Linked DNA regions of Homo sapiens: region 1 is linked to region 2. A link means that fine-mapping ties the variant in region 2 to the expression of a gene that starts in the linked region. Tissue or cell type: spleen. Region 2 holds a variant in brackets; the other region holds the start of a gene. All regions are shown on one strand. Distances are from middle to middle.

The links. PIP is the estimated chance that this variant, and not a neighbour inherited with it, causes the effect.
Region 1: it holds the start of GABRG3, and the variant in region 2 is the best candidate, but not a certain one, in a credible set for the expression of GABRG3 in spleen (GTEx, PIP 0.56).

The regions. Positions count from the first base shown.
Region 1 is chr15:26,968,868-26,972,867 of GRCh38, reverse strand. GABRG3 (gamma-aminobutyric acid type A receptor subunit gamma3) reads right to left here and starts at 1,687. Exons shown (of 10, transcript NM_033223.5): 1 at 1,280-1,687. The coding sequence starts at 1,332.
Region 2 is chr15:26,907,751-26,911,750 of GRCh38, reverse strand. The region is part of intron 6 of GABRA5 (gamma-aminobutyric acid type A receptor subunit alpha5); the gene reads right to left. Among named protein-coding and RNA genes, the nearest start is that of GABRA5, 43 kb to the right of the region's middle. The variant G/A (reference allele first, on the strand shown) is at 2,447.

The DNA.
Region 1 (4,000 bases), 61 kb before region 2:
GAGTCGGCTTCCACACTCAACTCAGCAAAGAGGAGCAGTTGCAAGGGGGAGGGCCAGGGCTTCCTTCCTCAGGGTAAGCACCCCTGCCCAATTCAGGAGTGAGAACTGGGGGCCCCCTTCATGTTTAGTAGGATTTATTCATGTGTCTTCCTAGCTCCTTGGTAGTTCACAAATAGGAATGAAAAGGCAAGGCCTCCTGGCATTGCCTCCTGATGGTGGCCAGGCTTGTGCACGCAAGGATGCCCTCTGATTCTCTAGCTCCCAGACCCAGGAAATGGAGAAGCGTCAAAACAAGAGGGTTTGGGGGATAGGGGCACGCTGAGCTTCCTAGGGTGGGGAAAGAGGTAAAGGCCAGACACTGCTCCAATTTTCAAATAACAGGACAGTCTGCAAGCTCTAGCCAGAAATCCAGCCAGAGAGACAGAATTAAAGAAACTAAACCCAGAATCTCCAGTTGTGTTTACAGCAACAGGATTTAACCCTTTGGGTCCCACTGTCCTTGTATCCTCATGCGCCCTCTTCATCTCTTCTAGAGTGATTCTAAGCTCCCATTAGCCGGTTGGTGTACTGGGAGGAAGGTTGCGGAATTTATGGTGAGATGATTTCTTACATTACCAGGCAGAAGCCTTATTATCCATTTCGACATGCGTGCTTTATGGGGGTGGGAGTGCGTGTGTTCCTCTGTGTGAAAGTGGCTGATGTGGAAGGTGTGTGTGTGTGTTTGCAGGACCTGGGAGGGGAGTCCTCCCAGACAAGCAGGGCTTTCTTCTGCCCACCTGGTTCCAATCCCCCCGCGCCTGCCTCCAATGCATTAGCTCTTTCCAGCCCGGTCTAAACTAGGCAGTTAGAACCACGGTTCCCGGGTTCTTGGAAATTTCAGAGTGATGGAAATGACAGAGAATGTCAGCCAAAGTGTGTGTGTGTGTGAGCCCCTGAAACAGCTGAGGTGGGAATTAGGGGTCGGTAAGGAGCCAGAAATGGCCCCTGCCCCCTGAACCTGGTTCTCAAAACCCCTTAAAACCACCAGATCCTAAAAGCGTCAGGAGACGAGCCCATTAATCTGAGTCCCCACACTCCCGGCTGCAGAGGAAAAAGCAGATGACCGTGTCCAAGGGAGCTGGGACAGGTGAGGTGCAGACCGACTTCCCAGTCCCCTCCCGGCCCGCCGTGCCGCAGCCCAGCCGACGGCTGGCGCGCCAGGGACTCCAGCAGACAGCGCCCCCCGCCGCCCTGTCGCCCAGCTCGGGGCCTCCGGGGATGCGGCCCCCGCGCCACTTACCGCGCGTGCAAGCCCGAGAACAGGCAGAGGAGGAGCAGCAGCTTCGGGGCCATGGTGCCGTGGAGCTCGGGGCGCAGGGTCCGGGGCCTCGGCCGGGCGCGGCTTCCTCCGGCGCGGACCTGGTCTCCGCCGGCCCTCTTTGCCCTGGCTTCCTCCGAGGCTGCTGGCCGCGGCGGGCGGGACAGGTATCTACTCTGGCGCTGGCCGCGCCCCCGCGGGGCGCACACTGGACGCACACGGGACGCCGGGCCACCGCGGCGCGCCGCCCCCACCCGCGCACTAGCGCCGGTCCGCGCAACCGGGCGGCGGGAGCAATGGGCGCCGGGGACCCCCTGGCGCGGCGCCGCCCACCCCGCCTGGAGCCGCGAGCGGGCGCGGGTGCCCAGGCCGGGGCTGTGTGCGCTGTGCTGGGAGGTGGGGGCAGCTGGGCGGCTGTCCCCTGGCAGCGCCTCCGAGGCGGTCCCGGCGGGGAGGAGTTTCCCCAATTACACGCCTGACAACGCGCAGGGCGAGGAAGGCGAGGTTTGAATGGACTCGGAGTTTGAGGCCAGGAAGGGGGCGGAGCTCCGAGGGGGAGGGGAGGCTGGGGATCCCGCAGGGAGCCTGAAGAAAGGTCCCCGGGGTTGGCACCATGAGAGCGAGCCCGCGGTCCGCCTTCCTCCAGCCATTTCTACCCCAGTGCAGGTTTCCTCCAGCGCTCCCTGACCTCCCGTGCCCGCCGTCGCCCGGGGTTGAGACGGTTTGCCAAAAGCAGCCCTTCCATCGCACTCTTCGTGCTAAGTCGGCTGAACTCCTAGGCACTGATAAGATTCTGTGCTTGGAAAGGTGGCTTTCTGCGGGAATATTTGGGAAAAAAGCACCCCAGATTTATGCCTTTCTTACAGAAAAGAGAGACTAACACATAGCAATAAACAGTAGAGGTGGAAAGGCATGTTAAAGGTAGGAGCTAGAAAGATCCTAAGGCAAGAAGCCAAAGACGTTCCGTTTGGTGGAAGCATGAGGTGCGCCTCATTCCATGTATTTTCATATTCCAAAAACCGAAAATGGCATTTACGCTTTCATTTGTCATAATCATTCAGAAAGTTAGTCTTGCACCATGTAAGTATTGCAATCGCAACAGTGTAGTAAATCCACTAGGAATTTTACATTTCTATCACCCCCAAAAAGTTCTTAGAAAATGTTTTATAACTGCTATTCATAGAATTATGTAAGGGTGTGATAACTGTTTCTTTAATATTGTCAAATAGCTTTGTTCGGCCAGGCACAGTGGCCCAAGCCGGTAACCCCGGCACTTTGGGAGTCCGAGGCAGGCGGATCACTTGACCCCAGGAGTTCGAGACCAGCCTAGGCAATGTGCAAAAACCCTGTCTCTACAAAAAATAGTAAAGAATTAGCTGGGCATGGTGGCATGGGCCTGTATTCCTCTGGTGTGTTCCCCCTTGTTTCTGGATAGGCATGAAGTGGAGGGGAGTGCAGTTGTTAATGACAATATTGTTTTTCAACAATGGAGCTGTCATCTCCCTGGCATCACCTTTCTGTCTCTGTGAGGTGCTGAACTCACCCAGCTCCCCGCCTTTCCAGGACTCTTTCTGGCATTCTCATCCTCCTCTGCCCAGCACATCCCTCCTACTTAGGTGCACATGCCCTATAAGGTCCCCTCTTTGATGAAGACTCTGACGCTCCTGCATTCTTCCACTTCCAACACCTGTACCACTCCTTTAGGCTTCAGGGGAATATGAGCCTTTATCATACTCTGCCCTAATCTCTAATTTTCTGTACCAAAATCTGAGCACTTTAAAAATCAGTTAGATGATGATTTATTGTTCCTTCATTGCTTATGTCGTCTCCACATAAGAGACTTGAGTCTCACTCTATCGCCCAGGCTGGAGTGCAGTAGTGTCATCTGGACTCACTGCAATCTCCACCTCCCGGGTTCAAGTGATTCTCGTGCCTCATCCTCCTGAGTAGCTGGGATTACAGGCACCCACCACCACGCCTGGCTAATTTTTGTATTTTTAGTAAAGATGGGGTTTCACCATGTTGGCCAGGCTCTTCTGCAACTCCTGACTTCAAGTAATCTGCTCGCCTCGGCCTCCCAAAGTGCTGAGATTACAGGCATGAGCCACCACGCCTGAGTGTGCTGCAAGAATGCTGCAAGTAGAAACAATTCTTTTGTGTTTCCCTTCTTAACACAGTAATAGGAACATAAGTAAAAATAACCATCTGACATTGATCACATAACAGGGGCCAGGGCCGACAGGAAGGCTTTACATTGATTAACTCATTTTAACTCTCACAACATTATTTCCGTTTCGCATATAGAGAAAAAGCACAGAGAAGTTAAGTCGCTTACCCCAGGATCACACAGCTAGTAGGTGAGGACTGGGGGTTAAAAGCCAGGCAGCTGGCTCCAATGTTTCATTCCTAATCACTATACCATACTGTCTGCCTGAGTAGGTGCTCAGCTGACATTTGTTGTTGGGCTAGTTGATGAAAGTTTTGGACTTCTTACCATATTATTTATTTTTTGAGCATGAGTTAAAATACTCACAAGTTGTTTATAATAGAAATAGACTGTTACTTGAGTGATTTTGTAAAATATCAGTAAACAAGAAGTGTCCTGAGATTTGTTTGTTGTTATTATTTTTTTTACAATTCAATCAGTGAACAAGAAAACGCAATACTGTTTTTACATCCCTGTGTTCTTTATTCTTTTCCTTT
Region 2 (4,000 bases):
CTGTGCTGGCATCCAGCTCCAATCCACCAGGCCATTGCAGGCACCAGACGTGACGTTTCTGTTGCATGCACCTACTCTCAGAGCAGACCCCAGGGAAACCTCATCCCAAAGGCCCCGTGAGGCACTCTGCCAGCTCCTGGTTCATTCCTCCTCCTCTCCTGGCCAATACCGTGTGTTTATAAAAGGGACCAGAGCCGCTCCTTCTGCCATGGTGGGCTTCATTCTAGCTGTTTGGCCCTGAGAACTGCCCACCTTCCGAAAATTACTGCACTGACAATGTTGAAAGATGGCATTCTGACAAGGAATGCATACCAAGGAGCTGGCTTTTAGCATATTGCAGGAGTGTGTGTGTTTGTGTGTGTGTGTGTGTGTGTGTGTGCATGCAGCAAGGGTGGGGGCAGGGAGGGTACACAAACACAGGTGGACAGCATTTAGCTGGATCTAAAAAAAGGCACTTTTAAAGAAAAAATAACTCCAGTAAAAATGTAAAAAAGACAGTTTTTCTACAATTACCATCTCAATAAATGCTATTATTAGAGCCTTGTGACTTCTCCCAATTTTATAGAGCCCCTTAGAATTCTAAACCTCAGGAAAGTATACTTCATCTATGATAGTGTCTCTCCTCTAACACATGAATGTATTATTCAGATAAATCTCTCAATAAGAACTGTTTCAGCCTCAGTCAGGAAATAAATTTAAATTTTCGATCCCTCTAAACATTTCAAAAATGGCCTATGCTTTTATAATACTCAAAAAGTATCTCTCAGTGAAAGAAAGCCTTCTATTCATGGGGCTCTTGAAATGTGGAATGCTTTGATGTGGAACCAGCCGCCTCCACACAGAGCTGAGATCAAGGCCTCTGTGGAGTGGGTGACTGTCATAGCGCAAGAGAGACAGCTAGGTCACCTGCTTGAAACCCTCACTTTTTCGATAAAGAAAATCAAGCCCAAAAGGTTAAGAAACTTGACTGTGGAAAGACTTCACTGAATTACTGGAAGACCCAGGAATCCAGTATTTTTACAAAGGTCCAATTTCTGTTTTACTTCCAATTTCTGTTAAGACATTCAAGCATTCACTTACTGAAGCATAATGTCCCATTTTTGAAGAACATCTTGATTTTAGGATAAGGAAATGGGATTTTTTTTTTTTTTTTGATGGAGTCTCGTTCTGTCACCCAGGCTGGAGTGCAGTGGCATGATCTTGGCTCACTGCAACCTCCACCTCCCAGGTTCAAGCTCTTTTCCTGCCCCAGCCTCCAGAGTAGCTGGGATTACAGGTGTCCGCAATCACGCCCACCTAATTTTTGTATTTTTAGTAGAGACAGGCTTTCACCATGTTGACTAGGCTGGTCTCAAACTCCTGACCTTGTGATCCACCTGCCTCGGCCTCCCAAAGTGCTGGGATTACAGGTGTGAGCCACCACACCCGGTCGGGCATTTTTATAATTTAAGATAATTGCTTCAATTTGGATTTATGTCATCGTAATTGAGGGCTTAGGGTCCTAAACTCAAGAAAGAGCTCTCTGCTTGGTCAGGAGCAGCTGATGGGTGAAGAGTGCTTTATGATGGGTAAAATGGCCAAATTCTAGAGTAGCTTTGCTATTAACTAATTGTGTGACCTTTGTAAAACTGCCTAACCAATCTGGTCCAGTCTTCTTGTGTCAAAAAAAAGAAAAAAAAACATTTATTTCATTCTCTGAAATAAATAATTGATAAGTATAAAAAGGGTAAAAAGGCTTTGGCTATTACCAGTTCAATGACAATGAGGTGATTAAAGAAAGTCTCCAAAATTCTACTAAAATCTTCTTCAAATCGAAGCCTTCCTTATTCTTGTGGAAATCCTGCATCAATGCAGTAGGTGTGACAGTGGCAGGCAAAATAACAGCACTGCAAATATGTCCATGTGCCAATGCACAAAACCCCAAACCTGTGAGTATGCTACCTCACTCAGCAAAAGGGCTTTGCAGATGTGATTCATTTAAGGATCTTGGGATGGAGAGATAATCCTGGATTCTCCATGTGAGCCCAATACAATCACAAAGGTCCTTCTAAGAGGGAGACAAGAGTGTCAGATTCAGAGAAAAACATGTGATGAGGAAGCAGAGGTCGGTGCAAAGTGGCCAAGAGTCTAAGAATACAAGTGTCCTCTAGAAACCGGAAGAGGCAAGAAACAGCCTCTCCCCTAGAGCGTCCAAAAGAAATGCAATCCTGCCAACAGCTTGACTGTAGCCTCCTGGGACCCTTTTGGAATTACAAGACAATAACTTTGTTGTGTTTTAAGCCAAAATTTGTATTTCCTATTGATGCTATGACAAAATGGTGGTCTCCAAAGATGTCCATGTCCCAACTCTTCCTACCTGTCAATATGTTTCCCTTATAGCAAAAAGGACTTTTCAGATGTGGTGAATTTAAAGCTTTAGAGATGGGAGGTTTTCCTGGGTTATCTG[G/A]GTGGGACAAATGTCATCACGAGGCCACGTAGAAGAGGAAAATGGGAGTGTCAGAATCAGAGCAGGAAATCTGATGGCGGAAGTGGAAGCAAGAGTGACGCAGGACCATGAACCAAGGAATCTGGCCCCTCCAGAGGCTGGGAGAGGCAAGGACACAGATTGTCCCCTAGAGAAGCCAGAAGAGAGGCCATCCTGCCCACAGCTGCATTTCAGACACACAAGACCCATTCCAGACTTCTGGTCTCCAGTGATGTGAGAGAATAAATTTGTGTTGAAAAGTCACTAACTATGTAGTAATTTGTTAAGCAGCAACAGGAAGCTCATACAAGTCTAATGACCAGCAGTTATTGTGCCAAAGAGCAGCCCCATGCATATTTTGAAATCATTTTCACAAAGGTGACAAATAAATTTAGTAATATTAGCCAATTTGTAAGTAGCTCACATCATGTTCACTGCAGTGAAAATTCAGACTTTGATAATGAAATAGACATCTCATGTGAGGCATCCTAGCTGGGTCAGTTATTGAACAGCATGCTGTGCCTCAGCTGGAATTATTGGAAACATGACCTCCCTGTGAAGATGCTACCCGTGACTCTCAGGCAATACAGGAATTTATTTAGGGACCCTTGAAATTCAGTATCAACACAGTATCTAAAGATTGATGCTACAGAAAAGAAACAAGGCTTAATTTCATCATGATCTTTGTCTAGTCCTGAGAGGCCTTGTAAAAAACACACCAATGCTTAACTTAGAAAACTTTCTATGCACCAGAGTTGTGCCCCATCGGAAAGCCTGCAGGGTTTGGAGACACAGCGTTTGGCATTCTGCAGCTGGCATGACGGCAGGCAATATTCTTCTATTGGGCTGCAGCCTGACTCTGGTGCCTCTGGTGTACTCATAGCTGCAAGTCTGTGCAGGGCTTATTCAGCACACCAGTAGGGATGCTGCTGGTGAATTTTCACTCTACACCTGAGTCACATCCTTAGCAAGGATGGAAGAGGAGATTCACATCATGCACACGGAGCATAGTTTGTGCTATGAGTGGGGCGTCTTGGAAAGGAAACCCAGCTGTAAGGATTACAGGCCTGTTTCCCTAGAACTGACTCAAATCAAGATTAGCAAATGAAGATATACTGATCCAAATATTCAATTAAAAAGAACTGAAATACATATGCATGCATACAAGTGTATAAATACATACATACATATATATTTAATAAGTTACTGATGCTAGCAATACAGGTAGCCTGTTTCTCCTTCAGAAACTTTCCCATGAGCCCTGCCTGATGCCCAAATCCTGCCTGGCTAGACTTTTCTCCCCTGTACTACTGTGCTCATAAAAATAACTCCAAATTTGTTTACTAAAGAAAAGAATGCACGGATGTATTTGTTTTATTATATGCAGTCAGTATCACGATGTACCATGTGTGTTATTTGTATACCTGTAGTTAGGCACTGCTTGATTTTCTAGGAACCTAACTTCAGCTTACAATAATATTTCAAGGAAAAATGTATTCTGAAGCTCAGTCAACTATATGAAAACTGAACTTTTGG